Homo sapiens: one gene and its partner. The protein of the gene in region 1 purifies or fractionates together with the protein of each later gene. This does not show direct contact. Each region holds a gene or a part of one and is shown on either strand. Other genes may lie near its edges.

Region 1 (3,655 bases):
AACATAATGAACTTTTAATAAGCATTTTCTATGTGCCAGGCAGTATTTTAAGTGCTTCACATGAAATAACTCATCTATTCCATACAATAATCTCTATCAGGTAAATGTGATTATTAGCCCAGTTTTACACATGGACAAACTGAGGTTAATAGAAGCAAAGCTGTGATTTTGATCCCAGGAAGTCTAACCTTCAGAATTTGTGCTCTTAATCACCAGTCATTACTGCCTGAAAACCCCAACCCCTTAGTCAAATTCTAGCTCCCCATGAAAGACCACCAAAGGAAATTAAAAAAAAAAGCCTGCTAATTAGGCAAGACTGAGTTTATTGCTCACTTCCTTGACAGCATCTTAATAACGTCTTGGGCTGGGCGTGGTGGCTCATGCCTGTAATCCCAGCACTGTGGGAGGCCGAGGCAGGTGAATCACCTGAGGTCAGGAGTTCAAGACCTGCCTGGCCAACATGGTGAAACCCCTTCTCTAATAAAAATAGAAAAATTAGCGACGCATGGTGGTGCATGCCTGTAATCTCAGCTACTCGGGAGGCTGAGGCAGAAGAATCTCTTGAACCCGGGAAGTGGAGGTTGCAGTGAGCCGAGATCGTACCACTGCACTCCAGCCTGGTTGACAGAGAAAGACTCCATCTAAAAAAATAAAAAATAACGTCTCGAAGTGGGGAGGGAAAACTCAGCATATTGATGGGGTCTTGGAGTCTCGTCTAAGGTGGGTCTTTCAATGGGGGATGTGATTTGGATTGTGTAAGGATCATGATATAATAGTTAGGATTGGTGTTCACAGCAAGGTGAAATGACCAAAGATGGGGTTTTAAAGAGTCTAGGAGAGTAAATAGTGTTTTGACACAATCGATATTTATGTAACTAGCTTTTCTGGAGGCTTCTGGAATGAATAATAGGGCTATTCGCAACTCTTATCTTCCTGGGCAAGAATTTCCTAGCTTAGTAGAGTCAAGGTGATGGCGACCGCAGAACCGTGAAGTCGTGTTAATAGAGACAGTAAGCTGTGCACGAGTTGATAGTTTTGGTTCTCACTTATCCGTAACATTGGGATAATAACGTCATCCGGAAGTTGCTTGGAGAATCCAATGTGACGTTGCCTTTAATGGGATAAAGCGTGGCACAGTTTGTGTGTCATAAATGGAAGCTCTTTTCATCTCCTCTTCTTGACCCGTAACCTTTCCATAATCCTTTTCAGAGTATGGGGGAAATTCTCTCAGGAAGCCCTGCATCTTCCCCTCCATCTACAGAAATAATGTGGTCTCTGATTGCATGGAGGATGAAAGCAACAAGCTCTGGTGCCCAACCACAGAGAACATGGATAAGGATGGAAAGTGGAGTTTCTGTGCCGACACCAGTAATCTGGGGATGGGGGTTGGGTGGGTGTGGGTGGAGTCTTTCTTTCATTTGCTCAACAAACACCTCCTGAAACCCCACTGTGAGCCAGGCACTGAGTTGGGCACTGAGGATCTGGTGATGAATCCGGCAGACAGAGTTCTGGCTCACGAATAATGTCAATGATGTGATATGCCACAGGCTTTAAAATCCAAGAGAAAGGTGCCAAAATGAAATGCTCAAAATGTTAAACACCTAACCATGATGCAAATACAGAGTAAACACACGCCAGGGTTTTTAAAAACCCCAGTGTGAGCCACGAATGGTGGCTCACGCCTATAATCCCAGAACTTTGGGAGGCTGAGATGGGAGGATCACTTGAGCCTGGGAGGTTGAGGCTGCAGTGAGCTGTGATCACACCTCTGTACTCCAGCCTGGGTGACAGAGTGAGACCTTGCGTCTAAAATAAATAAATAAGCAAACAGTGAAATCACCCAACAAAAGGCTCAAACATTTGGAAAACATAATACTATACTGCTAAAGTGCACCTGTTCACAGTACAAGAGCTGAAGTGAGCCAAAAGAGCATCCCCTTGTTCCCCCTTGGGTGAGAACATGTGTGTTGGGAGACTCAGACTCAAATTTCCTCTCCTGTGTGTGTCCACAAATGACCACAGAAGCGTCATGAGTGTCGATTTCATCAGTGACAAAGTTTAGCGAGTTGACGCATTTGCACCTGTGGAATCCATGAAAGATGAGGACACTGGAATTAGTCCTCTGAGACAAATCCTCCATCCACCAGGTGCTCCTGGTGACCAGCATTCTCCTTCTCCCTCCTTCCTCCAGGGCCCTCTGTGCTTCCACTCTGCCCTTCTTCCCTATTCCAGTGCCTGCCCTATCTTCCAGCCTTTCTCATGTCCTACACTCTTGATAGCTTCTGAGGGAAGAAAATACCCAAGACCCAGTGGAAAGGAAAGGGAAGTCCTTGGGCAAAGAGGAACTAGAAGGAGTTATATTTCTGCGCCACTCCGGGCAAGGGGTCAGTCCGAATAGCTGTGGGTGGGGGGGTGTGTTGTTCCAACAACTTGGGACTTTCCTAAATAAAATAAATTATTTCTCAGCTGGTCATGGGAGATGTGACAGCAAAAATTGAGACCCATTTACCCTCTGTTGCCTCAAGCTGCTGTGGATAGAGGCTTCCAGTTTGTACTATTTATGGGGTCATCTTTCATGAGGACATCATTTACGTCCTCATCTTTCATGGATTCCACAGGTGCAAATGTGCCTACTCGCTAAACTTTGTCACTCAGAAAATTGATACTTGTGGTGCTTCTGTGGTCATTTGTGGACACACACAGAGTTAGGAAGTTTGAGTTTGAGTCTCCCAACACTCATGTTCTCAGCCAAGGGGGAACAAGGGGGTGCTCTTTCGGCTCATTTCAGCTCTTGTACTGTGAACAAAATTCTTCTTTGGCTTAGGTTTAGGTCGGCATTCTGAGCAGTGCCCAGGCAGTGTCTTCATGTGTAGGGTTTACCCAGATTTTATTTTTTAGTTTTTTTTTTTTTTTACTTTTTATATTTTGTTTTATTTTATTTTATTTTTGAGACGGAATCTCACTCTGTCGCCCAGGCTGGAGTGCAGTGGCGTGATCTCGGCTCACTGCAACCTCCGCCTCCTGGGTTCAAGCGATTCTTCTGCCTCAGCCTCCCAAGTAGCTGGGATTACAGGCGCTTGGCACCACACCTAGCTAATTTTTGTATATATGTATTTTTTTAGTAGAGATGGGGTTTCACCACGTTGGCCAGGCTGGTCTCAAACTCCTGACCTCAAGTCATCTGCCTGCCTCAGCCTCCCAAAGTGTTGGGATTACAGGCATGAGCCACAAAGCGCAGCCACATTTTATATTTTAGAGACCGGATCTCCATCTGTCACCTAGGCTACAGTGCAGTGGTGCAATCATGGCTCAATGCCGCCTCGACCTCCCAGGCTCCAGCAATCCTCCTGCCTCAACCTCCCGAGTAGCTGGGACTACAGGCATACACCACACCCAACTAATTAAAAAAATTTTTTTTGTAGGGACGGGGTTTCACTATGTTGCCCAGGCTGGTATTGAACTCCTGGCTTCACATGATCCTCCTGGCTCAGCCTCACAACTGAGCTGGGATTAAATGCGCGCGATTAAATGCTGGGATTAAAGGCGCGAACCACCACACTCAGCCCCAATTTGAAATCTAGGGTGGGCCTGAAGCCCACGCCTCTACGACAGTGTGAAGCCTGAGGAGTAACCTTTGTTTTATCCCCTTCTGCTT
Region 2 (3,463 bases), on another chromosome or scaffold:
GACCAGCCTGGCCAACATGGTGAAACCTTGTCTCTACTAAAAATACAAAAATTAGCCAGGCGTGGTGGTGCACACCTGTAGTCCCAGCTACTCGGGAGGCTGAGACAGGAGATTTGCTTGAACCCGGGAGGCGGAGGTTGCAGTGAGCCAAGATTGTGCCACTGCACTCCAGCCTGGGTGACAGAGCAAGACTCCATCTCAAAAAAAAAAAAAGAAGCAGACCTACAGCAGCTACTATTGAATAAATACCTATCCTGGATTTTAAAAAAGAAAAAAATATATATAATTTTATTTTAAATTGGCTTTTATCTTTAATTCTTTTTTTTAAAGTTATCAAATCTTCATTTTCTAAGAGTAGCCCTTTATAGTGTACAAAATGATATTAAGTGCATTATTATCTTCGCTTTTCATGGCTCTGAGTCATAAAACAAGCTGGTGGATCTCACTGTACCTAATTTATAGACGAGGAAATTGTCATTCAAAAAGATTGACTGTTATGCCCAGGGTCAGCACTAACCTGCAGAACCAGTATTCAGTCCCCAAGTTCAGTGTCTTCTACTGCCCTCTACTAATGAAAAGTGAAAATTTCCCTGGGGTCTAATTCTCTCTTCAGTTTGCTGTGCCGTTGTTTATCTTTGAGTCTTCATTCTCTGAAGATGGCTTTCTGCCTGTTTCTGGTACATTAGAATTCTCACTATGATATAGAAATGGCTTCAGTTTCATAGCATAATCTTGCAGTTAGCTCTGAATTGCCTCAAAAACCCTGAACAACGCGAGGTTCCAGATGTGTTTTACTTCTTTCATTCATATTTACCCCCATTTGTTGTTTAAAAAGAATTATGAACAATTATTACATCATATGTAGACCACTTTCACTGATTATATGTTGACATTTTCCTCAGTAAAACATAAAGTTCTTAACAAGACTATACTGTAACACCTTTCTCCAACAAAATCAGCTGTATGTTGAAAACTATTAAGTCATTGCTAATGTTTTAAGCCATAATACAGACAGCCTTATACTCTATGATGGGAGAAGGGAAAGTAGTTTGTCCGATGGTGCTACTCTGTATAAACATTACTGATGCTATCTATAGTAGGGCAAGAAAAGTAAAAAGAGTTTTGATTATTCAGGCAGCATTTTTAAAAACCTGTGAATTTGTATCAGTTCTCATCTAAACATTTGGACACAAGTATAAAATGAAAACATATGCACAAGTTATGGTTTTTAAGTTATCTGCTCTTTTTTTTGGTTTCACTGTACCTTTGTACTCTTCTATTAGTGGGAATAATCAGACATGAACTGTGACTTCACATGTACAGTCATACCTCACTTAATGATGGAGATGCACTCTGAGAAATGTCTAATTAGGTTATTTCATCGTTGTGGGAACATCATAGAGTGTACTTACACAAACCTAGATAGTGTAGCCTGCTACACATGTAGGACATGTATATAGCCTATTGCTCCTAGGCTACAGCATGTTGCTGTTCTGAATCATGTAGGCAATTGTAACACAATGGCAAGTGTCTGTTTATTCAAACATCTAAACACAGAAAAGATACTACAACAATAACAATATGGTATAAAAGATTTTGTAAAAAATCTGGTCAGGTGCAGTGGTTCACGCCTGTAATCCTAGCACTTTGGGAGGCTGCCTCAGCAGGTGGATTGCTTGAGCCCAGAAGCTCAAGACCAGCCTGGGCAACATGGCGAAACCCCGTCTCTGCTAAAAGTACAAAAGCTGAGGTTGGAGGATCACCTGAGCCTGGCAAGGTCAAGGCTGCAGTGAGCCATGATCATACCACTGCACTCCAGCCTGGGTGACAGAGTGACTCCCCATCTAAAAAAAAAAATATATATATATATATATACTATATATATATATATACCATATATATGGTATATATATATATAGTATATATATATATGGTGTGTGTATATATATATATATGGTATACCTGTATAGGGCACTTACTAACGGAGCTTACAGAACTGGAAGTTGCTCTGGATGAGTCAGTGGTGAGTGAATGTAAAGGCCTAGGACATTACTGTACACTACTGTAGACTTTATAAACACCGTACACTTAGGTGACACTAAAATTTATAAAAAATGTTTTTCTTCTGGTTGGGCATGGTGCCTTATGCCTATAATCCCAGCATTATGGGAGGCCAAGGTGGGTGGATCACTCGAGGTCATGAGTTTGGGACCAGCCGGGCCAACATGGCTAAACCCCATCTCTACTAAAAATACGATAATTAGCCAGGTGTGGTGGCACATGCGTGTAGTCCCAGCTAATTGAGAGGCTGAGGCAGGAGAATTGCTTGAATCCAGGAGGTGGAGGTTGCAGTGAGCCAAGATCGAACCACTGCACTCTAGTCTGGGTGACAGAGGAGCAAGACTCTGTCTCAAAAAAAAAAATTCTATAATTTTTATAGAAATAATAAAAAACTAACCTTAGCTTACTGTAAATTTTCTAGTTTAGAAACTTATTTAAAAACAATTTTTGGACTCTTCTAGTAATAACGTAGCTTAAAACACACATTGCATAGCTGTACAAAAATATTTTCCTTATATCCTTATTATATAAGCTTTTATCTATTTAAATTTTGAATTTTTAAACTTTTTGGTCAAAAACCAAGACAAACACACTAGCCTAGGCCTATGCAGGGTCAGGATCAAGACATCCCTAGCAGGTGACAGGAATTTTTCAACTCCATTATAATCTGTGGGGCCACCATCATATATATATTGTACATTGACCGAAACATGGTTACATGACTATATAATTTGCGTCAATACTGCTCAGTGTGCCATATTTAAATTTACATGACTATATTGTGATATTCTTTTCAAAATAAAGTTTATTTGGGAGATAACTGATTTTGTGAAAAATTCTTCAACACCAATTTCCTCAGCAGTTGTACTGATTTTCTTACCTGTTATTCTAAATTTTATACCAAAAGTGAGGAAGATGGACAGGTAGTGGAAGGAGAGGGGTACAGTGACACTTTGTGCCTCTGATTATCTGCTCTGTATAGGTATATTTGTAAGAAAAGCTGTGGTTTGATTTAAATTCTTTTGAAATATGCATTAAGTCTTGACCTTTAGCATGATAGTTAATAGTTAATTCTTAGCACTGAAGAAAGTGTTTTTGGTTTTTCGAGGGGGAGGAGGGAGGGTGATGGTTATTATCACTGTTGTTTTGGTTTAGGGTTTTATCGTGTGTAGCAGGTGGACACACTGATTTATGCCTACTGCGTAAATCAGTGCTATAAAATACCCTCTGATTAAACGAAATGCGGGGTTGCCATGAAAATAACGAGAAACAATGATTTCTGATTCAGATGAAGAATCTAGCCATTTGGATCTTTCCTTATGGAAATGAATTTGTAGTTTTTATTTTATTAATGATGTGTGGGATATTGCTTATATTTCTTTTCTATTTTTTTTCTTTTGTT

The links. Proteins that work in one complex are often made in the same cells at the same time.
Region 2: the proteins of ELSPBP1 (region 1) and FKBP14 purify together in Homo sapiens (co-immunoprecipitation; 2 studies listed by BioGRID and IntAct, with this or other methods). This does not show direct contact.

The regions. Positions count from the first base shown.
Region 1 is NC_000019.10:48,018,510-48,022,164, forward strand, and holds part of ELSPBP1 (epididymal sperm-binding protein 1 precursor), read left to right. Parts: intron 1-1,209; coding exon 1,210-1,368; intron 1,369-3,655.
Region 2 is NC_000007.14:30,010,005-30,013,467, reverse strand, and holds the end of FKBP14 (peptidyl-prolyl cis-trans isomerase FKBP14 precursor), read left to right. Parts: 3' UTR 1-2,881; downstream 2,882-3,463. UniProt on the Homo sapiens protein: PPIase which accelerates the folding of proteins during protein synthesis. Has a preference for substrates containing 4-hydroxylproline modifications, including type III collagen. May also target type VI and type X collagens.